Linked DNA regions of Homo sapiens. The protein of the gene in region 3 interacts with the protein of the main gene of each other region in a pairwise test. Each region holds a gene or a part of one and is shown on either strand. Other genes may lie near its edges. The genes, in order: TMEM237, TMEM248, SLC35B2, RNF170, CD69, GOLM1 and SHISAL1.

The links.
Region 1: the proteins of SLC35B2 (region 3) and TMEM237 interact in binary tests that used the Homo sapiens proteins (3 or more experiments, as listed by UniProt).
Region 2: the proteins of SLC35B2 (region 3) and TMEM248 interact in binary tests that used the Homo sapiens proteins (3 or more experiments, as listed by UniProt).
Region 4: the proteins of SLC35B2 (region 3) and RNF170 interact in binary tests that used the Homo sapiens proteins (3 or more experiments, as listed by UniProt).
Region 5: the proteins of SLC35B2 (region 3) and CD69 interact in binary tests that used the Homo sapiens proteins (3 or more experiments, as listed by UniProt).
Region 6: the proteins of SLC35B2 (region 3) and GOLM1 interact in binary tests that used the Homo sapiens proteins (3 or more experiments, as listed by UniProt).
Region 7: the proteins of SLC35B2 (region 3) and SHISAL1 interact in binary tests that used the Homo sapiens proteins (3 or more experiments, as listed by UniProt).

Annotation. Positions count from the first base shown.
Region 1 is NC_000002.12:201,636,777-201,640,787, forward strand, and holds part of TMEM237 (transmembrane protein 237), read right to left. Parts: intron 3,490-4,011; coding exon 3,485-3,489; intron 2,270-3,484; coding exon 2,213-2,269; intron 110-2,212; coding exon 1-109. UniProt on the Homo sapiens protein: Component of the transition zone in primary cilia. Required for ciliogenesis.
Region 2 is NC_000007.14:66,941,366-66,945,376, forward strand, and holds part of TMEM248 (transmembrane protein 248), read left to right. Parts: intron 1-482; coding exon of another isoform or gene 483-500; coding exon 501-659; intron 660-3,610; coding exon 3,611-3,896; intron 3,897-4,011.
Region 3 is NC_000006.12:44,254,550-44,259,209, forward strand, and holds the start of SLC35B2 (adenosine 3'-phospho 5'-phosphosulfate transporter 1), read right to left. Parts: upstream 2,980-4,660; 5' UTR 2,862-2,979; coding exon 2,851-2,861; intron 2,740-2,850; exon of another isoform or gene 2,633-2,739; intron 2,330-2,632; coding exon 2,136-2,329; intron 1,948-2,135; coding exon 1,793-1,947; exon of another isoform or gene 1,789-1,792; intron 1,096-1,788; coding exon 157-1,095; 3' UTR 1-156. UniProt on the Homo sapiens protein: Probably functions as a 3'-phosphoadenylyl sulfate:adenosine 3',5'-bisphosphate antiporter at the Golgi membranes.
Region 4 is NC_000008.11:42,868,739-42,872,749, forward strand, and holds part of RNF170 (E3 ubiquitin-protein ligase RNF170), read right to left. Parts: intron 1,375-4,011; coding exon 1,266-1,374; intron 1-1,265. UniProt on the Homo sapiens protein: E3 ubiquitin-protein ligase that plays an essential role in stimulus-induced inositol 1,4,5-trisphosphate receptor type 1 (ITPR1) ubiquitination and degradation via the endoplasmic reticulum-associated degradation (ERAD) pathway.
Region 5 is NC_000012.12:9,754,546-9,758,014, forward strand, and holds part of CD69 (early activation antigen CD69), read right to left. Parts: intron 1,875-3,469; coding exon 1,752-1,874; intron 717-1,751; coding exon 517-716; intron 146-516; coding exon 42-145; intron 1-41. UniProt on the Homo sapiens protein: Transmembrane protein expressed mainly on T-cells resident in mucosa that plays an essential role in immune cell homeostasis.
Region 6 is NC_000009.12:86,089,353-86,093,363, forward strand, and holds part of GOLM1 (Golgi membrane protein 1), read right to left. Parts: intron 1-4,011.
Region 7 is NC_000022.11:44,295,681-44,299,691, reverse strand, and holds part of SHISAL1 (protein shisa-like-1 precursor), read left to right. Parts: intron 1-2,806; coding exon 2,807-3,020; intron 3,021-4,011.

The DNA.
Region 1 (4,011 bases), on a different chromosome or scaffold from region 3:
CTTTGAACAGGAGCCTCTGGGTGCTCTTTGAGTTCTTTAGTTGATGGCTCATTGCCCTCAGAGGGCCTTCGACCAGCAGTCTGAGCAAGGCCTTCCAAAGAAGCACTTGCTATAGAAAAACAGAGTAGAAAAAAATGAGATTACTTGAGCAAAGATCACTGAATCTTAAAAAGATGGAGGAAAAGGTAACTAGAATGTTTCCTATAGAATAACCCCATCTCTTTCAGAACTAATTATCCCCCAAATCTTTCCTTCCTCCTCACCTGTAACTTTGGGCTTTAAGTTAGGAAAAGAAATAAATGAAGGAATAAGAAAGGCTGAGGAAGAAAAAACGAGGGGGCTAAAAAGAAGAGCAAAAGACAGGAGGAGGAGAAATTGCTTCAGAACATTTAGAACTTTGAAAAAGGTGGAAAACATAATAAAAACTGATACCATAGAGAATTCTCTTACTTGCCTCTTGCCTTAAGAATTTTCATCAGCCTCTATATAGTAAAGTCCTTCATTAATAAGTTAAAGAATAATAAAGTCATCATGGATAATTGGAGTTAGCAGGTAATTTATAAGTCTCTTCATTTGGTCATTCACTTCAACTTCTTCCCTCATGAAATCTTTTAAAAGAATTTTAACACATACCTGACTGCATTCCCTTCCTTGCTTGTCTTCTTCACAAAAGAAATAGAAATTGCACTGGGTGCAGTGGCTCATGCCTGGAATCCCAGCACTTTGGGAGGCCAAAGCAGGCGGATCACATGAGGTCAAGAGTTCGAAACCAGCCTGACCAACATGGCAAAACTCCCTCTCTACTAAAAATACAAAAATTAGCCGGGTGTAGTGGCATGCGCCTGTAGTCCCAGCTACTCAAGGAGGCCGAGGCAGGAGAATCGCTTGAACCCAGGAGGTGGAGGTTGCAGGGAGCCAAGATCACACCATTGCACTCCAGCCTGGGCAACAGAGCAAGACTCCGTCTCAAAAAAAAAAAAAAAAAATAGAAATGTATCAATAAACAAATGAAAATGTTTAACCTCAGTAGTACATAGAGAAATGTAAACTAAAATAAGCTACTTTTCCCCCACTAAATTAACAAAAAAATTTTAAAGATTGATTATTGTCCAATGTTGTTAAGGATTTAGAGAATGAGACACTCTCAGACTCTACAGGTAGCAAGATAATAACTAAAGCTTCCTTAAGGTAATTTAGCAGAGTCAGTCATACTAATAATGCACACATCCTGCACCTAGCAATTCCACTGCTAGCAATCCATCCTACAGAAGTACTTCTTCCCTACCACCCACTATTTTATGCAGAACTGCAACATTGTTGGAGTGAAAAATTGGAAATAACCTAAATAAATAACAGAGCAGTGATTATGGTACATTCTTATCATGTAATACAATGAAGTCACTGTTTAAGAATACATAGAACTCTATGTATTAAGAAACAAAGATAGTATGTATGATTCCTTTTATGTTTTTGTTGTTGTTTGTTTGTTTTAAAAAAGGAGCAGCAACCACAGAAACCTTTTAGGAGTGTGAGAGGTCTCAAGTAAAGAGTGAAGTTAAAGGATCAGGTAAAGATAATCTTGAGGTTTCAGGCCTGAGGGCTGGGAAAATGGTAGGTTCCATTAACAGAAAATCATGAGACGTAAAAAAATTATTTATTCTTAAAGGCAACGATGGATTCTAGATGTGCTGAGTTTAGAGTTACGGATGCAACTTCCAGGATTATCAGTGGATGACTAAGACAAAAACGAGTTCTGCTCATGACTGAAGCTTTACTATTTAAATGATGATGTGGCCATGCCTTCAGACTCATGCTGTAATGTAGAGATATTCTGATTGAAGTGAGATTTAAGAACTCTGTGTTTCTAAATTCAGTATCTTGTTCAAGGGTCTGGAATCAATCATAGCTTAAAACCATGTATGTTGTCTGGGGATAAAAGACCTTAAAGAGTCCAGGAATATCATGGAAATAGGAGCTTAGATGGCACCACCTTCTATTCCATGAATGCGTCCAGATACTCCTCAGGCTGCCCACTGCCCTGTACCTCACCACCACCAGGAATTCCACTGCTTCAAACTGGCCTTAATTCTATCCTCAATGAAGTGGAGATTCGGGGCTGCTGGGGCCTTAATTCTCCCTTATCTGTGATGTTTACTACGCCTGAGGTCCTGGGAAAACTTGTGATCCCACACAACAAAGAATAACGTCTTACCTGGTGTGTTTTTTGTTCTGGGCTTCTTTTTCTTAGGACGACTAAGTGGAATATCATCTATAAAGCAAGAAAAAACGTCAACAGAAAAGGGTGCCTAAAATTCAATGCAGAGAACAGTCAGAAGAGAACTTTTAAACAGGGAAGAATTCTCCCTCTCTTCCCTGGGCCTGGCAAACGTTTATAGATTAGGGGAAGAAGGCAAGAAATTGAGAAGATCAGAGAGAGCCCACAGTGTGGTACCAGTAGCACACTGCATGTCAGTAATGTTAGAAACCATGACACAGAAAGTGGGTTCAACAAATATTCATCTGATCCCCTATATTTCCCAGCCTCCTTGCACATAGGTGTAGTCTATGACTGGTTCTGGCCTATAGGCTGTGAGCAGAAGTGATCTGTGTCATTTCAGAGCCAAACGTTGAAAGAGCCAGTGAGTAATCTTCCAGCTTTCTCTTCCCTTGTTGTGGTGACTGAGGAAGCCTCATGTTAAGATGGTGGGACCACAGCACAGAAGTAGCCTAGATTGCAGACCAGGCGCAGTGGCTCACACCTGTAATCCCAACACTTTGGGAGGCCAAGACAGGCAGATCACTTGAGCTCAGGAGTTCGACACCAGCCTGGCCAACATGGCAAAACCCTGTCTCTACTGAAAATACAAAAAGTAGCTGGGCATGGTGGCACACGCCTGTAATCCCAACTACTCAGGAGGCTGAGGCAGGAGAATGACTTGAACCCAGGAGGCAGAGATTGCAGTGAGCCGAGATCACACCACTGCACTCCAGCCTGGGCAACAGAGTGAGACTCTGTCTCAAAACAAAAGAAAAAAAAAAGTAGCCTAGATTGCTATATCAATAGTAAAAAGGTAGTGAAAGGTAATGGTCCCCCATTTTTGCCATAGCAGACTTTGTATTAATTAGAAATAACCCTGTGTGACACTAAGTCACTGAGATTTGGGGGTTTTAGTATAGTATAACCTTGTCTACCCTGACTAAATGAGACAAAGGAAGGTGCAGTCCTCATTATAGAGCTACAAATTAGCCAACAGTTATGTGCTGGGTGACCCCATTCAGGGATGAAGTGCTTTTATAATGGAAAGGTCATCTAGTGCTATGTATCAATGACAATTTTTAAATGGTAGTCATGGGAGATTATTTCACAAAAACATATTGTAGAATTACAAATTACACCATTCAGACTCAGTTTTAAGAGAAACAAACCAAGGAATCAAACTAATTTTTGAACACCAAATATTATATTTACATTAAACTAACTCACCTTGACTAACACGTCATATAACACCAAACAAATTTAATCAGCAGGACAAAGACAAAAAAGAAACAATTAATTAGAAACCTGTTAATATTCACAGTGAAAATTGACTTAAATCATTACAAATTTAAAATAAAATTAGCTTTCACATAATAGCTAGTTTACAAACTAGTTTACTGTTTATAATTAAGTGGTTTAATAACACTGCTAATAAAATAATGTCAATATTTTCTGAACCTACATATACATATTCCCTACTGTCTATTAATAAAATGGATTAAGCAGATTAAGAACTCTTACTTGTGACTGATTAAAATCAGCTTAAACTCTGAGGAAACTATTCTCACAAAAGACCAGAATTCTGATTTAAAAAAAAAAAGACACCAAAACAGTTAGAAAGGGAATGGATCCATTATCCTACCATGTTGATATTCAGGCTTTTAAATATAACATTCCATTATAACTGTTATTCTTAAAATTCAAGGATTTTTCACCTTTAAAATTTCAGAAAATCCCTAAATTTTTCAGAAGAG
Region 2 (4,011 bases), on a different chromosome or scaffold from region 3:
GAGACTCCGTCTCAAAAAAAAAAAAAAAGAAAAAAAAAAATTAGCCGGGCATAGTGGTACACACCTTTAGTCCTGGCTACTCGGGAGGCTGAGGTGGGAGGATAGCTTAAGCCTAGGAGTTCAAGGCTGCCGTGAGCTATGATCACGCCACTGCACTCTAGCCTGGGTGACAGAACGAGAGACCCTGTTTCTTAAAACACACACACACACACACACACACACACACACACACAATATTTAGAAGATTCAAACTGAAAGAGAATATGTATTCAGGATCCTGCCACTTTGAGGTAATGGCAGTTAACATTTAGTGTTTCTTCCTTCTAGTCTTTTGAATGAAGTTATGATCCGACATTTCTCAAATTCAGTAATGAGTGCCCATCCCACCCAGCTCACCCCCCAACACCTCAAAAGGAAACAAAAGAATCATAGCTTTCCTGTTGGCAAGTCAGTCCTTGAAGCTTCTGATTCATTTCTTTCAGGTGGAGCTGATCAGAATAATGTTCAGCATCAACCCCCTGGAGAACCTGAAGGTGTACATCAGCAGTCGGCCTCCCCTGGTGGTCTTCATGATCAGCGTAAGCGCCATGGCCATAGCTTTCCTGACCCTGGGCTACTTCTTCAAAATCAAGGAGATTAAATCCCCAGAAATGGCAGAGGTATAGTATGCTCTGACTTCTCCCGGGCTGGCTGGTCCTTGTGCAGTGGGGCAACACCCTGTGGCTTGCCATATAGCTTTCTTGGGTTTTGGCCTTTCTCTCCTAGTGAGAAAAATCAGTATTTATTCAGAATTTTCTGTTTTCCATCTCCCCAGGACTCACTTTGTTAGGAAATACCTAGATGGGTATTGTTCGATTTAAATATGCTACCAGTTTCAGTTAGACTATTTTAGCAGTGAAACATGCACTTTGGAGAGTACATTTGTAAAATGATCTGTGTCAAAAAGCTGGAGACCTCACCTCTGTAATATTCCATCTCAAATGGGTTCATTGCTGTTTTAGAAAACTGAACATTTGGTATTTTAAAACCACATATCATCATGGAGTTTTATCAGCTATACTAATGGTTTTTTTCATGAGATAAGAAGGAATCCTAAAGAAATTCAAAAACAGGACCTAATTTCCAAATATATTTGTTTTTTGTTTTTTGAGACGGAGTCTCGCTCCGTCACCTAGTCTGGAGTGCAGTGGCGTACTCTCAGCTCACTGCAACTTCCACCTCCCGGGCTCAAGCGATTCTCCTGCCTCAGCCTCCTGAGTAGCTGGGATTACAGGTGCCTGCCACCACGTCTGGCTAATTTTTGTCTTTTTAGTAGAGACGGGGTTTCGCCACGTTGGCCAGGCTGGTCTCGAACTCCTGACCTCAGGTGATCCACCCATCTCGGCCTCCCCAAGTGCTGGGATTACCGGTGTGAGCCACCGCATCCAGCCTAATTCCTGTCTTTTAGTAGATTCCTTGGGTGCCTTCTCTTATTCTATTTCCTTCTTCTTGGGTTTGTTGGTGGGTGGAGGTGGGGGTGGGAGTGGGGCTGGGAGTGCGTGGTTGCCGCATTGAGTGTGCCTTGCAATGGAGAGGAGAGTTGTGTTCCATGTAATTGAGATCGTAGCTTTCTCTCATGCTCTAGGGCATTCTAGATCTTAAGTGATCTTGGCAAAAGGAACCGCCTACACATGTGAGCTCTTTCTAGCACAGTTCAAGTAACGAGTTTTAGCTATTTCTACCATGTAACCCTTTCAAAGAGTTTATTACTAAGAGACATACTGGCTGGCTTAATTCTCTCTCTTTTCTGACCCTGCCTCAATCTTTAAAGGTTGTGAAAACAGGCTGCCCCCACATCAGGGCTGAAAATGAATATTCTACTCAAAACTAAAGCTGCACAGCCTCCTGCCATTTCTTTCCCGCAGAGCTTGAGTCCATGTTGAGCACTTGGCCAAGGCCAGTGGTTGCACTGAAGCCTGGATAATTAGCCCTTAATAATCCAAATTAGGCCTGGCATTGGCTTTAGCCAGCTGTTCAACGTGGACTCCAGCTCTGTAGGAACGCATTGTTGAGATGCTGCGGAACTTTGGTTATGATTAGTTTCGTGATTTTTGTTTTCAAATGAGGATCCTAGGTTGTAGGAAAGGCAGTGGTGTATGGGAAACATTTGGGGCTGTGAATCAGAACTTAATGCTGATTTTACCTTGAACTAGAATTGGAGAGTCCCTAATTTGCCCTGGGCCTCAGTTTCTTCATGTCTAGGATTATGAAGGACTGAGACTAGAATGTTCATTTTCAACCCTAATGTACTAGAATGGTCAGTTGAGTTTGTAGGTGTTAGGGAAAATGTAATTTGATAGATCCAGTTGCAGTCTTACTAAATGTCACATACAGTTAAACTGATGCTGTAAGGGTAGACTTACTGGGCTGGGTAGGGGTTGCTCAGATGACTTTTTTTTTTTTTTGAGGTGGAGTGTCACTCTGACACCCAGGCTGAGGCTGGACTTCAGTGGCGCGATCTTGGCTCACTTCAGCCTCTGCCCCCCTTCAAACGATTTTCGTGCCTCAGCCTTCCAAGTAGCTGGGATTACAGGCATGCGCCACCATGTCCAGCTAATTTTTGTATTTTTAGTAGAGACAAGGTTTCACCATGTTATCCATGCTGGTCTCGAACTCCTGGCCTCAAGTGATCCACCCTGCTTGGCCTCCCAAAGTGCTGGGATTACAGGCGTGAACTACCGTACCTGGCCTCAGATGGCTTTTTTTTTTTTTTTTTTTGAGACAGAGTCTCACTGTGTCGCCCAGGGTGGAGTGCAGTGGCACGATCTCCTCTCACTGCAACCTCCACCTCCCAGGTTCAAGCGATTCTCCTGCCTCAGCCTCCCAAGTAGGTGGGATTACAGGCACACACCACCACACCCGGCTAATTATTGTATTTTTAGTAGAGACGTGGTTTCACCATGTTGCTCAGGCTGGTCTCGAACTCCTGACCTCAAATGATCCACCCACCTTGGCCTCCCAAAGTGCTGGGATTACAGGTGCGAGCCACCGTACCTGGCCCCTTCCTTTTTGAAATCGTTGCTGCTCTAAGGTGTCATCAAAAGTCCATAAGAAGGGGGGCAGTGTCCCAAATGAGTATTAGTATTCACTGCTGTTTTGTGTTCTAGAGAAAGAGAGCAAGGTGTATGGAATTGACCTTTTGGGACATTATTTTAAGGTGACTTTATTTAAAGAAAAGAATTGTAGTTGCAAAATGAGTTTGGATTAATGCTTTTCTTCAAGCGTTCTTTTCAAGTTTGGTTCTGAGGCTAGATCATTTTCTCTAAGTGTAATATGCTGGATTTTTTAAAAAGATTTTCTTGAATAAATTGATTTGATTTCACAGTTTATTGAGTATCTTGTGCCAGTGAAGAGTTCATATTTTAGGTTGTGAATATAAAAGTGATTAGGAAAGCCACATCATGCTGCCTGTGAAGAGGGTGGTGGCCGAGTTGTCATGATCTTAAATGATCAGCTCTGAATTGTAGTTTGCTGATGTGCTGCGGTGCCACACTGGGGTCTTACCTGTATTCCCGCAGTGGGAGACAGGCGCTGCTTAACACCCATTTCTCTTTCTTTCACTTTCCCAAAGGATTGGAATACTTTTCTGCTACGGTTCAATGATTTGGACTTGTGTGTATCAGAGAATGAAACCCTCAAGCATCTCACAAACGACACCACAACTCCGGAAAGTACAATGACCAGCGGGCAGGCCCGAGCTTCCACCCAGTCCCCCCAGGCCCTGGAGGACTCGGGCCCGGTGAATATCTCAGTCTCAATCACCCTAACCCTGGACCCACTGAAACCCTTCGGAGGGTATTCCCGCAACGTCACCCATCTGTACTCAACCATCTTAGGGCATCAGATTGGACTTTCAGGTATGCAGTAGCCACTCTCCACTCAGGCTCCTTAGGCAACCACTGTTACAAAAAGAGGATGCACCGTGTATGTTTTTACTGACTATATTGTACTAGATTGTAGTCTTGCGCGTGT
Region 3 (4,660 bases):
GCCTCCTGGGCTCCCCAATCCCCTGCTGCAGAGCTGGTCTGTGATACTGAGAAAACACCTGCATTTTGCCCTTTCAGCCAGCTCCCTCAGAGGTTACAGCAGAAGGGGATGGTGGGAGGGTCCTATTTCACTTCACCCCTCAGGCCCTTTCCACCCTCAAACCTTCTGCACAGGAGACTCAACAGGCACAGCCTTCTTTCCCCGTTGCTTTAGACGGCCCCGCGCGTAGACTCTGAGCAGGAGGGCAGCAAAGACCACAGCCACCCCCAGCCCTCCCACCACAGTGACAGTGTGGCCATAGAGAAGGCAGGAAAGAAGGATGGCAAAGGCCTGGCGGAGGGTCATGATGATGGTGAAGACGGCAGCCCCAAACTGCCCAATGGTGTAAAAGATGAAGAGCTGGCCACATGCGGAGCAGATGGAGAGTAGCAGGGCATGGGCAGCAAACTCACTGTGTCGCCCCATGAAGCGGGTTCCCTCCAGTAGGGCCCCCTGTTCTAGCAGTGAGCCCACTGTGAAGAGGCAGGAGAAGAAATTGACCCCAAACATCATCTGCACCGATGACATCTTATAGGCAAACAGGGCATCCTGCCAGTTTGAGGTGAAGCTGTCAAAAGCAATATAACCTGCCAGTAAGATGAGGCCTGAGAGTGTGGTGGCTGGGGAGCTGCGGGGCTCTGGTCCGCTGGATAGCAGAAACATGCTGACCCCAATGGAGATGAGGGTGGCTGTCAGGTACTCCCAGTGTTCGTAGCTGCGCCGAGACACAAGCTTTCCCATCAGCATGACAGGGATCACCTTAGAGGCCTTGGCCAGCACCTGGGTGGGGAAGCTGACGAACTTAAGAGCTTCGTATTGGCACCAGCTGCTAAGCACATTGGACAGGCTGGCAAAGGAGTACCGGTACATGGGTGCCCCATGCCGGGGCTGCTTGCAGAGAACACAGGAGAGGCCAGCCACAATCAGTGCCAGCACTCGGTTCATTAGCACCAGGAACTGCGAGTCCGTAAAGCGCTCACCCGGTGATGTGGCTGTGGCCCCATAGCTGCGGGTCATCACTCTTTCCTGCAGCACACCCCAAGTCAGATAAGACACCTGTTGGGGAAGGTAGAGACAAAGGAGACAATAAGCAAGATAATGAAAAGGTAGACAAAAATTGACCTCTCTCTCTTCAGGATTATGCCTAAGTGATTCAAAGGAAAATATACACTTTTTGGTTCCTCTGTAGAAGTTTCTTCTCCCCTCCTAAGTCTGGATTCACCTTGTAGGGAATCAACTGTGTGTGAAAAACCTATTCAGGGAGGCAAGAACTCTCAGAATTGGGTATCTGTAGTTCAACATGATATTCAAGGTGGAACTAGTACCCACTGCAAAATGCCATGGGGTCAGCATGTTAGCACTCTCTCACATGCAGTACTGGGGGAAGGCTGAATGGCTCCCCCACAATTTTATCAGTGGGTTTACAGTATGTGAGACACCAGTGCAGGAAGGAAGTATAATAACGGCACAGTAGAAATCACAGAGAATAGGGCAAGAGGAGTCCTCTCTTCTGCACTAGACATCTTGAAATAACAGCATGAACTTTCAGTACCAGTGCTGGAGAGGAGAAAAGGAAGAAACAAAAGGGCATTTCCCCCAAACACCTCAAAGATGGAGGTGCAGTGTGCCCCTGGGAGGAGGACACGAAACACACCAGCCAGCAAAGCTCTGGGACTGGTAAAATGGAAACCTTCACAGAATCCCTGCCCACCGGCATCCAACCCAGGAAGAGAGGCTGAGCCCACCTACCCACCTGGAGCCCTGTGGCACAGAAGAGCAGCTTCAGGGCCTGCCACATCGGGGTGGTCTCTGCCGCCTCTGTTCGGGGCGCCAGGGGAACCTCATCAGAGGCCTTGGGCTCATTGCCAAACACACAAGCTTTCACCAGGGGAAAGCAGAGGCCCCTACCTGAAGAAAGCACACAAAGTCAAGCCCCAAATCTTCTCCATAGCACTTCATCTTCCCCAGAGCAGCCAGCCTGCCCTGCTGTCCGGCCTACCGACCTCCCGCCCTCTCCAAGTCATATCCCGTTTGGACTGCTGGCCAAATACCCTCTTTCCCGACCTAGCTCACTTCCCCGCCCTTTCTTCACACACCGGTCTCCAGGTAGTTCTTCCGCCTGAAGTACTGCACCAGGAGGTAGCCAGGTACCATAAAGCTGGCATAGCCAGCAGCATTCACCACAAATCGGAAGAACCATAGCTGGGTCCATGACTCCGGAGGGGCTTCGGGAGTCTCCCCACCTGCCCCTAGGGAGGGGAACGCAGCCAGCACCACCACTGCCCACCATCTGTAAGGAAAGCGGACATAAGGATTAGGGCGCAGCTCCTCATCCCCTCCGCCCTCCAGAGGGGACCACACTGGAGTAGTGCCCGGAGTCTCCTCCCCGCCCCCTCCGCTGCAGCTCCGGCCCGGACAAAGAGCCTCTCTCTCTCTCTCTCTCTCGGGGAGGGGGTGCGCCGGCGCTGGCCAGGCAGAGCTTCCTCCCTCCCCGGGGGCGGATCCGCCCCTCTGGCCACACAGGTCTCCTCTGTTCCCTCCAACGCTAGCCGGCTGCTCAGGTCAGAGGAAGCGCCCCTTCCCCCACACTCCCCTCCACGATCCGGGACGTCAGGGTCCCCAGCCCCTCCGCCCGAAGCTCCCCAAGGAGCACAAAACCAAGCCGCAGCTCCCATCCCCGCTGGCTCCGGGCAGCGATATGCTGGCCGACGGCCGAGCAGCCGGGACCCCACCCGGCCCCCGTGCTGAGGCGCGGCAGTCACGTGGCCCGGGGGCTCGGTCACGTGAGCTCGCTGCTGCCCTAGCCCCCACCTGGCGTCCATGGTCCAGGCCGCGTGGGGTGGAGGGGGAACCGGGGAATGCGAGTCCCCGGGCCGCGCGCCCCCTGCGCTCCCGCCGCCGCCTCCAGGAGCGGCCAGCGAGCCAGCGGCCAGCGGAAGTGCCGCGCTCTTCCCGCCTCCCTCCCCGCGGCCCCCTCCGCCCCTGCCGCGACCACGCAGCGCCCCGGGCCGCCGCCGGACCACAGCGCCCCCGCGCGGCCCGGAGGCAGACGCGGCTTGGGTTCCGGGGACCTGGGCTGCCCCTGGGCGCGGGGAGCCCCAGCCCTGAAGAGGCGCCCGCCCGGCGTGTCCCCTGTGCTTCGTCATCGCCCTTCATAAGCGTCCCAGAGGTCATGGTGACCATTGCCATCTTGTGGACAGGACATTGAGGCTCTGCATCCCAAGCCGCTCCTCTGTGTTAGTTTCCCCGTTTTCTGACAGGATGAAGGTGTCTCCTTGCTTTGTTGGCTGGGTAGTAATTCTGTCCCACTTCCCATGATCTTCGAGGCTCTACATGGCCTCGCCCGCGTTCCTCGCCCACTCACTCGCCCGCTGTGAAGCCCCACTGGCTTGCTCTCAGTTCCTCTAATTCACAGGCTTTCCCCCTAATGCTCTGCCCCCATCCCTTTACTCATCCTTACATCCCAGTTGAGATGATACTCCTCAGGCGAGGGTTCCCGGACCACCCAAAGTATGACCCTCTACCGACTCCATCCTTTTCCTTCCCACTATTCTTTTCCCTTCATAGCACCCACTGCAACTTGGAAAGGCATCTTTATTTGGATGTTTATGCTTTTAACGGCTGTCTCTCTCACTGGATGAGACGCTCCAAGTGGTCAGAGACTGTGCTGGTTTATTGCCCCATGCTCTTCATGCCAGCATAGGGGTGACCTAGCAGGGCCCTCGAAGGTGAGGAACGGGGGGAAAAACGTGGAGTCAGCTCCCTCGTGCCCAGCCTCCCTGGGTTACCCTTATCCCCAGGCTCCTCCAGATGGCAACCCCCAGGGCAGTGGTGAGGGCTCCAGGGCGTGTGTCCTCTCATTCTTCCTCTTGTCCCTCCATCCCTCATCATTTCCACAGCAAGGACAAGGGTCTGTGCTGGACACAGAGAAAGGCCTGGAACTACTGGCCTCTGACCCCACCCAGCAAGGCCCTACCGTGCTCAGGGGACAATTTCCTTCTCTCTGCCTCTACCACAAAGTCACAGGGCAGGCCTGTCTAAAAAGCCCCAATGCACACAGACATGCATGCGCGCAAAACAGCTCTAGAAGGGAAAAACTTTTTTTAACGTCTCTGCCATTTTAGTGTCATGTTACTGAAACTTCCCTTCCCCAGTGGCTCAGTTCAGAGCCTTCTGTGTGAAGTCTTTAAACAACGGTGTTTCAGGGTCCTCAACAGCAATAAGATGGGACACCTCTCAGGGTTCTGCTTGCTCCTATTTCAGTCTCTTCTCACTCAGGAGAGTCCATGCTTCCTACTGGTTGGCAGTTTCAGGCTGACCCAACATGGGTAAAACAAGAGCACCTGCCATTTTCAAGAGAGGCAAACAGGCTTCACCCAGGATACCTGGGGCTTTGGGGGTCTTCCAAGAAGCCCTGTCCACCTGGAAAGCTCTTCCTTCCAGACTGGCTCTCTTCCACTTGCAGTCCCTCCTCCTCGGCTCAGGACTGTACTGGCTGGCCCCAGGCTCTGGCCACAGCAGTCCCTAGGGCACCAGAAGAGCACATAGCCTGGGCCCAAACTGCAGCAGTTATGGCTCCGGCTTCCAGATGGAGAGGTGGAGCCCTGAGGATCCCAGACCC
Region 4 (4,011 bases), on a different chromosome or scaffold from region 3:
CTGCTTGGGAGACTGAGGCAGGAGAATCGTTTGAACCTGGGAGGCAGAGGTTGCAGTGAGCAGAGATCGCACCATTGCACTCCAGTCTGGGCGACAAGGCGAGACTGCATTTCAAAAAAAAAAAAAAAAAAATTGGCTCTGTCACTTAACAACTGGGCTACTCTTTGTAAAATGTATTATTATTATTTGTGAGACAGGATCTTGCTCTGCTGCCCATGCTGGAGTGCAGTAGCATGATCACAGTTCATTGCAGGCTCAAGCTCCTGGGCTCAAGCGATTCTCCTTCCTCAGCCTCCCCAGTAGCTGGGATTGCACATGTGAGCTATTGCGCCTGGCTAATTTCTTATTTTTTGTGGAGACAGGGTCTCCTTATGTTGCCCAGGCTGGCCTCCAACTCCTGGGCTCAAGCAATCCTCCTGCCTTAGCCTCCCAAAGTGCTGAGATTACAGGCGTGAGCCACAGCGCCTGGCCTCTTTGTAAAATTTCTTCACATCTCTAAAGCCTGTTTCCTCATAGGTGGGGTTAGATGAAGTACATTAATGTCCAATACATAGGCATGTAATAACTGATACTTTGCCCCTCAATCTTCTATGGCGTAAGAAGCCATAGAAGATTTTCCTGAATCTGCAGATTCAGGAAAAATAAGTGGTGGAAAGCACTCCTTCCTGATACTAAGTAAGTGTGAAATTATTCCCTTCTTACCCCAAGGTATGCTCTAGGATTCTCATTCTCCTTCATTAAACCTCAAGAGGTTGAGAGAGACAGAGACAGAGACAAACAGACTGAGACTAAGACCTTTAAGACTTTTAGTACAAACTCAGAGTCAAAAGAGGCAGGAGGACTAAGGCAGGGTCTTGGGCAGGTTCTTGAGAGAAGAACCTTCCTGCCCTGGCAAGGATGAATAATAAATGAAAGTCCCAAAAAGTGATGAACAAAGAGGGACTCAGTGAATCCCTCATGCTATGGATCTACTTGAACTACTGTCCAAACAAACACATTTCTGTTTATGGGGAAGCTGAATAGTTTCTTTAACCTCTGAACCCATAGCTGCTACATGGACACACTAAATAGAAAATAAATAAGTAAGTATATTATTTAGATGCTAAGTATACTTGGTTGACAAGTAGAGCAGGATATCAGAGGTAATCTACCCTACTCACAAAATACAAAATGTGACAAAGAGAAAATTGGGAATCCAGCCTTTGTACACATAGAGGTCTTGGTCTACACAGTCACTTTTCCCAAGTATAGCGTTGTTTGCTTACCACAAAAAAGATGTCCACAGTTGGTCTCCACCGGGAAGGAGGCTTGGTGCAGGCAGATGGGACAGTACATGTCAGTGTAGAACTGCTGTCGAGTGGCAGCAGGTGCATCCTAATAAGAACACAGGTGCACACATTGGAACACAACACATGTGGCCCTCAACAGTATCTCATGTTAAATTATATTTGAGAACAGAGTCAGCAGTGTGTAACCCTCATCAAACTGTAAACGTGCAATAGTTTAAGGTTATAATTTTAAGAATGTTATGAGGCTATATTGTTTTTATTTAAGCTGCATGGTTTCCACTTTCCTTCCTAAACACAATTTAAAGACAAAAACTTAGATTAACTCAAGAGTTCATCTTTTACTCTACTGGAATAAGTAAATTATTCTGAGTAACACAAGGCTGAGCTAGTGCATAAGCTAACAATAATAAATGTCGAGGTCAGGTGCAGTGACTCACGCCTGTAATCCCAGCACTTTGGGAGGCCGAGGCAAGTGGATCACTTGAGCCTAGGAGTTCCAGACGAGCCTGGGCAACATGGCAAAACCCCATCTCTACAAAAAATAGAAAAATTAGCCAGGAGTGGTGGTGGCATGCGCCTGTAGTCCCAGCTACTTGGGAGACTGAGGTGGGAGGTCACCTGAGCCTGGGAGGTTGAAGCTGGAGTGAGCCGTGACTGCACCACTGCACTCCAGCCTAGGTGACAGAGCGAGACCCTGTCTCAAAAAGAAAAAAATATCAAATGTCAAACTGTTTTCTAAGTCTTCACTTTTTTCATTTTCAACATCTTTTTCATTTTAAAAGTGTTGCACATATGCAAGAAACATCTAGATATCAAAGACCTCACTAGGATGGATCATGAGGGCAAGGGATTTATCTGTAGGACTCATTGTACCTCAGGACCTAGAAAAGTGTCTACATGGCCGGGCACGGTGGCTCACACCTGTAACCCCAGCACTTTGGGTGGCTGAGGTGGGTGGATCACTTGAGGTCAGGAGTTCGAGACCAGCCTGGTCAACATGGTGAAACCCTGTCTCTACCACAAAATACAAAAATTAGCTGGGCATGGTGGCGCACACCTGTAGTCCCAGCTACTCGGGAGGGTGAGGTGGGAGAATCACTTGAACTCAAGAGGTAAAGACTGCAATGAGCCGAGATCACACCGCTATACTCCTGCCTGGGCAACAGAGACCCTGTCTCAAAAAAAAAAAGTGTCTACATAACATATATTTTATGTTATTGTATTGTAAAACTTATTTATCAAAACTTGTTTTAATGGAACCCAGCACAGATAAAGTTGCTAGCATGAAAAATATCTAATTACAGAAAAAAGTATTAAGTTTACTAAATAGGAACTGTTCTTAAGTGAATCAGATTTTTGCCACTCAATATTCATAAACAAATTTAATAAATTTAAATAATAATAAATATAACTAAAATTTCATACTTCCAAAACAGTCCTAAATCACCAGAATATTCTGTGATCCAAGGCTACACCTTGATGTTATAGTCACTTATGTCAGTTCTAATGCTACAAAAAGTGTACAGCACTTTATGTTCCCTTCTCTACTTTTTTTTTTTTTTGAGACAGAGTCTCGCTCTGTCACCCAGGCTGGAGTGCAGTGGCACAATCTCAGCTCACTGAAACCTCTGCCTCCTGGGTTCAAGTGATTCTCCTGCTTCAGCCTCTGGAGTAGCTGGGATTACAAGCACCTGGCTAAAGTTGTGTTTTTAGTAGAGATGGGGTTTCGCCATGTTGCCCAGGGTGGTCTTGAGCTCCTGACCTCAGGTGATCTGCCCGCCTCAGCCTCCCAAAGTGCTGGGATTACAGGCGTGAGCCACTGCACCCAGCCTTCTCCTTATTAATTTTTAAAGAAATTGACAAAAAACAATTAACGGTGCTGTCCAACAGAACTTTCTGCAATAATTGAAATCTTTATCAGTGCTATCCAATACAGTAGCCAGGAGCCACATGTGGCCATTGTGTACTTGAAATGTGGCCAGTGTGACTAAAAGACTTAATTTCAGATTGTGTTTAATTTTAACTCACTTGAATAGCCACAGGTGGCTGGTAGCTGCCATACTGGACAGCACAGAACAGACTACATCGCCAGCCTTATTTTCACTCTGAGAGCTGTGTGCTGGGCCTCAGGAAGAGGTGAGGCAGTTGAGTGGACACTGCTGCAAGGAGACCTGGAAGATTCTCCTCAATCTGGGGCCCCTCCATAGCTGAACCCAGTCATGAAATTGCTAGTGTGAGTGTTAGCAAATCTTAGCAGTCTCATATGTTAATGAGAATAATAGTAGTTGCCTTACTTATGTCTAAAGATTAAATACAATTGTTGTTTGGGAAATCACTTTGTAAATTATAAAACACTATCTCAACATGAATTATGGGTAACAATTGTTATGGAACACAGTACTACTAATAGGCTTAAACTATTCTGTCTTTTTTAGACGGAGTCTCACTCTCTGTCACCAGGCTGGAGTGCAGTGGCGCAATCTCAGCTCACTACAACCTCCGCCTCCCGGGTTCAAGTGATTCTCCTGCCTCAGCCTCCCAAGTAGCTGGGACAACAGGTGTGCGCCACCATGCCCGGCCAATTTTTGTATTTTTAGTAGAGATGGGGTTTTACCATATTGGCCAGGATGGTCTTGATCTCTTGACCTCGTGATCTGCTTGCCTTGGCCTCTCAAAGTGCTGGGATTACAGGCGTGAGCCACTGCACCTGGCCCCGCTTAAG
Region 5 (3,469 bases), on a different chromosome or scaffold from region 3:
ATGCCACCCTGGGGAATATAAAGAGACTTCTGGAGACTTACCAGTTGTTAAATTCTTTGCCATTTGACCACTTCCATGGGTGACCAGGTTCCTTTTTCAGTCCAACCCAGTGTTCCTCTCTACCTGCGTATCGTTTTAGAAAGTTCTTAAAGAAAGCACAAAGGAGTTTGTTACATTAAACACCCTTCTGGGGAAGTAGATAGTAAATCCTGTTTCTCAAAAGCTGCAACTTGAGGCATGACAGCTTATCTGACCATGTACTCATTCTATATAGGATCAGCATATTTGGATTTCTGGTCTTTGAAGCTAAGCAATCAAATCAAATTTAAAAGATTAAATTAAATCTCATTTTGACCTCAGGCTGATCATATGGTTCTCTGGGATGACATTTTCCTACATCTGAAATAGGTACAATGTTTGTTTGTTTGTTTGTTTTCTCCACTTAGAAACGGAAGGAAAGCACTGATTAGCCATATGAATTAAAATAGTAGTATTTTATCTTTTTTTTATTCTTACCATGTCCTTTTCAGAATCAATGACAGCAAGAGTAGCACCATGTTCAGAACAAGCATTTTGGGCTGAAGTCCAGCTCCTCTTCACAGTAGAAATAAAGTAGCATTTCCTCTGGTAGCCAACCCAGTCCTCAGAGCATGAAGAAACATGGCTGTCTGATGGCATTGAGAATGTGTATTGGCCTGGACAATTGTATTGGCCCACTGTGAACAGAAAAATGCTTTGTTTTAGTAACAAAAGAAACCAAATACCCACAGCATGCAAAACTAGCCTTAGGATGCTATGTTGTGCTAGGTGGTGATAAAGTAAAGGATAAAAGCTAAAAAGTAGAATTCTGAAAAGGGTATGAAGAAAGAAAGTTCTCAGGACCATATCTGATCTTCCATTGTGCCTAATCATCATTGGATGGAGATATGAGGATGAGGGGATGTACTTTTGGTCATAATGTCAGAAAATGACAGAAATATAGAACAATTCTGAAAATTTGGACTAGATATTTCTTTGGACTAGAAAGGATAAAGTGCATTATACATTTCAAATAAGGTTTTGAATCTGAATGCAGAGGCGGAAGAATTTGAAGATGCAGTATTTATAGCACTAGGCTGGAAAGATGGAGAGAGTAACTAACTTTTAGGGAACCAATTCAAAATACAGAAAGACATATGACTCAGAATATCTCAAAACAATGGTAAACATTCCCATTTGTAAAAGATACAAATATATCTTGGTACAGCTGGAGGTATTGAATACCAAATCACTACTGACTCTCTGGGAACTTTTAAATATAATCTTAATTATTCAGAACTACCATTCTGTGTCCTTTGAGATAAAACACAAAAGACTGGCCACTTCCTGATTAATCTATGGCTTTAGATACGATTTTTTTCCATAATCAATGAATGTGAAGTTCACATTTTTTTCTAGCTAAATAGGTATTTATTCAGAATTCAAATCAGCTCCCTTCATTCTAGATGTAAACATCTTTTCAAATGCAATTTTATTCTACAGTAATATATAAATCATAGATACTTTTAATACTTATAAAAGTATTACATTAATTATTCAAGGATTGTGGAATTATGTTTAGTATTGATTAGGAAATTGGCCATATATGGTACATGGGATGATTCTGAATTAGCTAGTTTCTGATTAACTAGACTAAACTAATATTGATTTCAGCTGGGCATGAATGCTTACAGCTAGGAGGCTTTGAAAGAATTGATGAAGTGTAGACCCACCTGATAAGGCAATGAGAGCTATGATTAAAATGGTGATGAAGACCACATTCATTACAGCACACAGGACAGGAACTTGGAAGGACCCTTCATGACGTGTTGAGAAATGGGGACTGGTGGCATCATCTGGAAGGGAGAAAGTTGATGATGAGTTCAGGCAGACTATAGAAGTACTATAGGAATATGCAACATTCTTTTGAGGCATTTAAACTTAATATTTCCTATCTCATTATATGAAATTTCCCCGTCTCTTTATAGAAATTTCTAAGTTAATTTACCCCCAATTTTGAGTGAATTTGAATAGTTTATTGTTGGCTTGAAATGAAACAATTCAAGCATAATGATGAGATTATAAAGTGTCTCCCCAAAATATTTACCTGACACATATGATTTATACACTTAGTAACTATGAAAATTCTAAGTATATAATCAGTTTGTTTTAATGATGATAAGAACGTTTATTAAATATGCACATGCCCCAGAAGACACATAAAAAAATTCTAGGGCATGGTGGCTCACACCTGTAATCTCAGCATTTTGGGAGGCCGAGGTGAGTGGATTGATCACCTGAGCTCAGGAGTTCAAGACCATCATGAGCAACATGGTGAAACCCTGTCTCCACCAAAAATACAAAAAATTAGCTGGTCATGGTGGCACGCACTTGTGTTCCCAGCTACTTGGGAGTCTGAAGTGGGAGGATCGCTTTAGCCTGGGAGGCAGAGGTTGCTGTGAGCGGAGATTGCACCACTGCACTCTAACCTGAGTGACAGAGTGAGACCTTGTCTAAAAAAATAAATAAATAAATAAATAAAAAATTCTAGCATAATTCCTTAATCTCCTTGTAGTTACTGTTTGAGAGAAATGATGTGAATGGGATAAATATGGATAATATCATAAAGTAAAATATTGAATTGCTATATAAATATCTGACATTAAAATGACTGAACAAAATTTTAAACGTGACAGTATTTTTTGGTGAAGTTGCTGCAGATGTGGAGCAACTGGAATTTTCAGATATTATTGGTGGGAGAGTAAATTGGAAAAACACTTTGGAAACTGTTTCTTATAAAATTAAATATATGCCTTTTCTATGGCCCAACAAACCTACTCCTATGTATATCCTCAAGAAAAATGAAAATATGTTCTCAAAATGCCTTGTGCAAGAATGCTCCTAGCAGCTTTATTCTTAAGAGCCAAATTCCAGAAATAATCCAAATATCCACCAACAGGAAAATAAGTGAACAAATTATGGTATATCCATACAAGGGAATTCCGCTCAGCAATTCAAAATAAGACAACTGATACATGCAACAAAATGAAGGAATCTCCAAAAAAAATGTTGAGTGAAAAAAAATCCAGCCACAGAAGATTGTATACTACATATTTGCATTTACATGACTTTAAATAATAGTTGGTCTAAGCTCTGGTGTCAAAAATCAGAACAGTAGTTGCCTTTGTGTGTGTAGGAAAGGTAATTTAACTGGAATGGGACACAGGGCAAACTGTCTAGGGTGATGGAAAGATTCAAATGTTGCTGGTCTTGTGGTTATACCACTGTCATAAGTCGTTAAACTGTATACCTACGAGCTGTGCATTCATCGTATGTGAACTAAACCTCAATTTAAAATGATATGTGAATGAACAGTAAAAATTTGAATTTTTCAAAAGATGTTAAAATAATAGAGGAAATGTAACAGTATTATAGACCAAATATTCAGCGA
Region 6 (4,011 bases), on a different chromosome or scaffold from region 3:
CCAACTTGGTTCCATTCCCCCCCTCACTTTCAGGTACACCAATCAAACATAGGTTTGGTCTTTTCACATAGTTCCATATTTGTTGGAGGCTTTGTTCATTCCTTTTCATTCTTTTTTTCTCTAATCTTGTCTTCACGCTTTATTTCATTAAGTTGATCTTCGACCTCTGATATCCTTTCTTCCGCTTGACCGATTTGGCTATTGATACTTGCATATGCTTCACGAAGTTCTCGTGCTGTGTTTTTCAGCTCCATCAGGTCATTTATGTTCTTCTCTAAACTGGTTATTCTAGTTAGCAATTCCTCTAAACTTTTTTCAAGGTTCTTAGCTTCCTTGCATTGGGTTAGAACATGCTCCTTTAGCTCGGAGGAGTTTATTACCCACCTTCTGAAGCCTACTTCTGTCAGTTCATCAAACTCATTCTCTGTCCAGTTTTGTTCCCTTGCTGGCGAGGAGGTGTGATCCTTTGGAGGAGAAGAGGCATTCTGGTTTTTGGAATTTTCAGCCTTTTTGTGCAGGTTTTTCCTCATCTTTGTGGATGTATCTACCTTTGGTCTTTGATATTGGTGAACTTCAGATGGGGTTTCTGTGTGGATGTCCTTTTTGTTGATGCTATTCCTTTCTGTTAGTTTCCCTTCTCACTGTCAGGCCCCTCTGCTGCAGGTCTGCTGGAGTTTGCTGGAGGTCCACTCCAGACACTGCCTGGGTATCACCAGTGGAGGCATCAGAAAAGCAAAGATTGCTGCCTGTTCCTTCCTCTGGAAGCTTTGTCGCAGAGGGGCACCCACTAGATGCCAGCCGGAGCTCTCCTGTATGAGGTGAGCTGTCAACCCCTGCTAGGAGGTGTCTTCCAGTCAGGAGGCACAGGGGTCAGGGACCCACTTGAAGAGGCAGTCTGTCCCCTAGCAGACTTTGAGTGTTATGCTGGGAGATCTGCTGCTCTCTTCAGAGCTGGCAGGCAGGAACATTTAAGTCTGCTGAAGCTGTGCCCACAGCTACCCCTTCCCCCAGGTGCTCTGTCCCAGGGAGCTGGGAGTTTTATCTGTAAGACTGGGGCTGCTGCCTTTCTTTCAGAGATGCCCTGCTCAGAGAGGAGGAATCTAGAGAGGCAGTCTGGCCACAGTGGCTTTGCCGAGCTGCAGTGGGCTCTACCCAGTTCGAACTGGCAGCTTTCTTTACACTGTGAGAGGAAAACCACCTACTCCAGCCTCAGCAATGGCGGATGCCCCTCCCCTCTACCAAGCTCGAGCATCCCGGGGCAACTTCAGACTGCTGTGCTGGCAGCAAGAATTTCAAGCCAGTGTTTCTTAGCTTGCTGGGCTCCATTGGGGTGGAATCCAATGAGTTAGACCACTTGGCTCCCTGGCTTCAGCCTCCTTTCCAGGGGAGTGAACAGTTCTGTCTCGCTGGCGTTCCAAGTGCCACTGGGGTACCAAAAAAAAAAAAAAAAAAAAAAAAAAAACTCCTGCAGCTAGCTCAGTGTCTGCCCAAATGGCCGCCCAGTTTTGTGCTTGAAACCCAGGGCCCTGGTGGTGTAGGCACCTGAGGGTATCTCCTGGTCTGTGGGTTGCGAAGAGCATGGGAAAAGCGTAGTATCTGGGCCAGAGTGCACTGTCCCTCATGGCACAGTCCCTCATAGTTTCCCTTGGCTAGGGGAGGAGTTCCCCAACCCCTTGCACTTCCTAGATGAGGCGATGCCCCACCCTGCTTCTGCTCACCCTCTGTGGGCTGCATCCACCGTCTAACCAGTCCCAGTGAGATGAGCCAGGTACCTCAGTTGGAAATGCAGAAATCACCTGTCTTCTGTGTTGATCTCGCTGGGAGCTGCGGACCAGAGCTGTTGCTATTTGGCCATCTTACCAGCCACTCTGTTGTTGTTTTAAATAACCTAATCTTGTCAATCCTTTATTACTTCTCGATTGTTGTTATATTTAGAAGGGCATTTCCTATTCTAAGTTTATAAACAACTTACCCACATTTTTTTCCAATGTACAGTTTCATATTTACATTTAAATTGTTCATCCATTTAAAACTCCTTTTTGATGTAAGGAGTAAGGAAATACAAAGAATGCAGAAGTAAGGAAATACAAAGAATGCAGCTTTTTTTTTTCCTGTAGTGACAAGCCAGTTCTGCCAGGGCCCTCTACTGAATAATCTATTTTTACCTACTGCTTTGAACAACTATCTTTGTTATATACTAAATTTTCTAACAATATACTTTTTCTTAAAGAGATGGAATCTTGTCGCCCAGGCTGGAGTGCAGTGGTACAATCATGGCTCACTGCAGCCTTGAACTCCTGGACCTAAGCAATCCTCACACCTCAGTCTCCGAGTAGGCACATGCTGCCGCACATGGCTTGACAAAATACTTTTAGATGTGACCCTTGCAAGGCCTTTTGTTATTCTAGTAGAGGTAAGTCAGTGGGTGGGGTATATTATAAATTTGAAAGCAGAAAATAAACTCCATTCTCACTTCAAGGGAAGTGTACAGATAACCATTTAATATTCTCTTTTCTTTAAACAGCCAATAAAAAATTTATTGAGCAGCTACCATGAGTCAGGTGCTGTATTCACATCAGGCAGCTCAGGGTGGTATTAAGAGCACAGACTGGAATCCCATTGCCATATCTGAATCCTGGCTCCACCACTCAGGAACCCCACAGACTGGAGCCTCACAGCCATGTCTGACACTGGCTCCACCACTCAGGAACTCCAAGACTGGAACCCCACAACCATGTCTGACCCTTGCTCTACCACTCAGGGGACACAGGACCTGTCTGTGCATCACTGTCCTGCTCACAAGGTTTTTAAGAGGATTCAGTGAGTTGAGTGAGAAGCGCTTAGAGCTACATTTGGCACATAGTAATTGCTCAACAAATGTTGACAACTATTAGGGATGGAAAGATGAACAACAAATCATTTCTAGATTCAATCTTTTTTCCATTTTATGAGGAAACAGTGATGCATGTTTTCCTTCCATAACCATTCTACTTTATAGCAACCAGTCCTCCTCTTTCCTTCTCCTGACTCTGCCACCAACTAAAATAGCAGTACCTGCCATTACCTGGGGCTGACCTACAGTTGCCACTGAGGCCGTGGACATCCCAGACCAGGATCATATTATGAAAAAGGTTTGAGGAAGCCAAGCCTCAAACAGTCCTGGAAGTCATACAATCCTGGAAGCCCCTCACTGTCACCCAGTGCTTGGCTGGCCAGGAAGGTGAGCAGCTGTCTAGACAGCACTCTTAGGAGAGCCCTGGGCTCCCAATGGGAGCAGGGCTGCCCAGGTAAATAGTGACACAAGGAAAGGAAGTAACACAATGAGGCTTCAGGCCTGCAAGGTGCCTCCTCACAGGCTTCCAGGACTGTAGAAACCCTTGCTGCTGAAGGATAAGGGACACACACTGGCGAGAAATGATCAAGACTGATGAAGGCTGGTGGCAGGAACTCACAGGCAGAGTTTATGGTGGTCAAATACATCAGACACTCTCCCTTCTCCCACCTTAGAATTTATTTGGATTGCGGATGAGATGGAAGTGGGTGAGTGATATACTGCATCAAACAGAGGTATTAATTTAATATTCATTTTCATTTAAGCTTCAGAATATGTTTGTCTCATACTTGGTTATAAGCTTCCAACATACTGAAAATGATTAACTTAAATCAGCTAAACTCTGTGAGGCTCCAGGCTTTCCCAAAATTAAAACAAGTGGTGTGTTTTCACATTAAAAATCACTTGATAGGCTGGGTGTACACAGTGGCTCATGTGTATAATCCCAGCACTTTGGGAGGCCAAGGCAGACGATCACCTGAGGTCAGGAATTTGAGGCCAGCCTGGCCAACATATCAAAACCCTGTCTCTACTAAAAATACAATTAGCTGGGCATGGTGGTGTGTGCCTGTAATCCCAGCTACTTGGGAGGCTGAGGCAGGAGAATCGCTTGAACTTGGGAGGCAGAGGTTGCTGTGAGCCAAGATTGCGCCACTCACTCTAGCCTGAGTGACAGAGCG
Region 7 (4,011 bases), on a different chromosome or scaffold from region 3:
CTCCTCATGCCCGCATGCTCTAACAGGGTCACTGACACTGGCCTGGTGGTTTTCAGCCCCTGCCCCTTTGCTGGGGGCAGCTCAGAGGGAGGCTATGAGGATGTCTGGGGGTGCTTGGCAGGGCTCCCCGGACAGCAAAGCCAAAGCCACGCCCAGGCCAGGGGTCTGGGGGCTACCCAGCTGCTCTCCCCACCCCAGATGCTTCCCATGCTTTGGCTCACCTGGTCCTCACCATCCCTGGAGGACGGACCCACTCAGCCCATTTTACAAATGAGGAAGGTGAGACACTCAGAAGGAAAGCGGCCTGCCCGAGGTCACCCCTTCAGGGGAGGGGCCAGCCAGTGAATCAGGGCCATCCAGATGCAGGAGTTACGTGGAGCTGTGCACACAGGGGTGCGTTCATGGTTGAGGCTTCGGGGCCCGAAATGCGGCTCTCTCCTTTGCGTCCCTGCTCTGCTGGGGCCTCCTAACAGAGTGTCCCTCGGCCTGGAGTCACGCCATGCCCCAGAGCAGAAGCCCACGGATGCTGCCCTTTACTGCCCTTTACAGCCTCTAGTGCTCGTAGGGCCCCTAGTGCACACACAGCCTCTTTCTCTAGGTGGGGGCTGCGCCTTGCTGTTTACAAAACGCTCCTGGGAGCCCCCAGCCCGCCTTGGAGACCATGAGTCTTTCATCAGTGAGGGGAGGAGGCCAGAGAGGTCACGATGGCCCAGGCAGCCTCATGCCAGGACTCCCACCCGGTTGTCCCGGCTCCCAGCCCAGGGCTCTGTTGGCTCCGGGAAGGCAGCCGGGGAGGCTTCATCGTTACCAAATGGCCAAAGCCCATGGCGCTGACCGCCCAGTGGTGGCCGGGTGAGCTGGGTGCTGGTAATGGGCAGGACCCTTCCACATCCCCCAACCTCGCCGGGCCTGCCCTCCCCGGCCCCCCATCTCTGCATATCAGGCTCCTCCCAGTCCCTTGAGGCCCAGCTCAAAGGCTGCCTCCCCATGCTGCCCTACCGCTCTGTCCCTTCCCTCCCTGAGTCCTGTGGTAGCCTCACGGGCTGGTCCCAGGGCCTAAGCTAGACTTTCTGCCCAGCAGCGTGAGTGTGCCTGGTTCCTCCCCAGCTGCCCACGCACTGAGCGTGAGCAGGGCCTCCTCACTGACCTGGGCAGTGACCCAGACAGTGACCGGAACTGGCTAGCTGCCTCTGCCCCTTGCCGCTAGGCCAGTGGGCCCCAAACCCAAGCCCATCAGCATCCCCTGGAGGGCTTGCCAGGACAGACGGCGGGGCCTACCCCGGAGCTTCTGATTCAGAAGCCCAGTGGCCTGAGAATCTGCATTTCTGACAAGCCCTCCGGGGATGCCCTCGAGGCCGATCAGGGGCCACACTTTGGGAACTGCTGCTCTGAGCCACAGTTTTCTCCCCTGTACGATGGGAATAAATGAGATGGGGTGAGACAGCTGTCTACTTGGGGCTCTCTAATAACCTCTACATCCCCAGAGGGGGTATTCTTCTTTCTTAAGGTTGAGGAAGAGAAGGGGGCCTGGAGAGCTCCCCTGGTTCCCCAAAAGCTGAGACCTTTCTCTCGCAGTGGTCATGCCCATCCCCACAGAAGAGGGTGCTGTCTGTGGGGGAAGGGGTGTGGAATTTCATGCCCCCCGCCGGAGGCAGCCTCAGCACCCCAGCACATGAAGGCCGCCTGCCCATCTTCCAGCCCAGCCCAGCCCAGCTGGGACTCCCCTGCAGCAGCCCCGGGTGGGTAGGTGGGGAGCTGTGTGGGCTGCAGTCTAATAACCTCTCAGCAGACACAGAGCTTTCAACGAGCTGGAGGAACTCCTGCAAAGCCACTGCCTTTGTGGTTAAAGGAATGTATTCAGCCAGCGAAGCCCCTTTTCAGTGATACAAATTAGATACAGCGATCTCTTTTATGAAGATACTAATTAAGCCTGAGAGAGCGGGCTTTAGGTTTTTTCCATTGTTATATTTGTTCAGACTTTCAGTCCTGTTTATCACCATCGGCACGACTCGTAAATACCATCCTGGGTTTGCAGTAGCATTGGTGGCTGAATAGGGGCCTCCGCCCCTGAGCAGAGTGGTGGGAGGGTTCCAGGCCAAGGCAGAGCTACCACCGTGAGGTGGGGGTGACTGAGGCAGGCCCTTGGGGACCTTGGGGCCTAGGGTACTAGTTTAGTAGAAACCAAGGAACGAAGGGTCTGCTGTTTTTGACCCAAGAGGTACCCAAGAGGTCCTTGCACCTATGCCAGCCACCACCCGGGCCAGCCTGGGCTGAGCAGCAGGTCCACCACTGCCCACCTGGGAACAAAGAGCTAGTGATACAAGACTGGAGAGGGCCCCAAACTTTGAATCCAGGCCTGAGTTCCATTCCTGTCCCTCCAACACTTATCAGCTCGGGCAAGTCACCTTAGGTCTCTGAGCCTCAGTTTCTCCATCTGTAAAGTGGGATCTCAGACTTGCTTGGCTGTGTGAGTTAAATGAGATGGGTCTGTGAAGCATACAGTAGGTGCTCAGTTAAGGCTGATTTCCTAATTGAGTGACTGCTGCATGTCAAGCATGTTCACCGAAGCAGGAGAGCCAGCCCTGCCCTCCAGGACCAGCCAGTCTGGGTGACACAGAGAATGTAACCAGGGCTGGGAGGCTCGGGGTAATGGGAACCCAGAGGTGAGGCTCACAGTGGACCACAAAGGCATCCAGGGGAGGGAAGAAGCAGGCAGGACCTGAGAAGAGGCCGGCCAGTCCCCCTGCCTCTTGGCACCCGTGGACTGGTGAGGGACCCCTCTGAGCCTGGTGACTCTGTCTTCCAGTCTTGTCTGCACATTTCCGGGTCTGTGAACCATACACAGACCACAAAGGCCGCTACCACTTTGGCTTCCACTGCCCCCGGCTCTCGGACAACAAGACCTTCATCCTCTGTTGTCACCATAACAACACGGTCTTCAAATACTGCTGCAACGAGACGGAGTTCCAGGCGGTGATGCAGGCGAACCTCACGGCCAGCTCCGAGGGTTACATGCACAAGTGAGTGCCACTCTGGGGGTGCAACCCCACTGCCTCGGGCCCCAGGCAAGGGGCCTGCCTCCCAAAATCGCGTCCCCTAGGGAGGCGGTTGGGTAACCGCTATAAGGTTGGGTGGGCCTGGAAGGAGTCTGGGAGAGTCTTTGGATGACCAGGGTTTTCGGCCCATTGTGCCTTCTAAGTTTCAGCTTTCTCATCTGAGAAATGGACACAGAGGCCAGGCGCGGTAGCTCACACCTGTAATCCTAGCACTTTGGGAGAATGAGGTGGGTGGATCACCTGAGGTCAGGAGTTCGAGACCAGCCTAGCCAACATGGTGAAACCCCATCTCTACTAAAAATACAAAAATTAGCAGGATGTGGTGGCAGGTGCCTGTAATCCCAGCTACTCAGGAGGCTGAGGCAGGAGAATCACTTGAACCCAGGAGGCAGAGGGTTGCAGTGAGCAGAGATGGCGCCATTGCACTCCAGCCTGGGTGACAAGAGTGAAACTCCGTCTCAAAAAAGAAAAGAAAAGAGGGAGGGAGGGAGGGAGGGACACAGAATACTCACTTTGCAGGGTTACCATAGAAGCTAAGTGAGGTTAAGGATGTGGAAAGCTTTCAGGCGTAGAAGGCGCCTGGGCCTGTAATCCACCGGGTTCCTTCATTCATTCTTCATTCATTTAACAAATACTGATTGACACCATTGACCCAGAGATTAATCCCATGCAGTTCTTTTCCTTAAGGTGATTAAAATACATTGGGATCAGGGCCTGATGGAGGGGACCACAGGTGTGGAGAAAGAGAGAGTTTGCTGTTAGAAAAGCAATGGGAACACGCTAAGTAGAGTCATGGAGTTTCAAAACAGCATGCGTTTCTCTATTATGAGTGAAGCTGGCCGTCTTTTCACATGCCTGAGAGACATTTGTATTTCTTTTACCGTGAGCTAGCTGTTTATGTCTTCTGTCATTTTTCTATTGAAGTTTTTGTTTTTTTCTTATTTACTTATGGGTG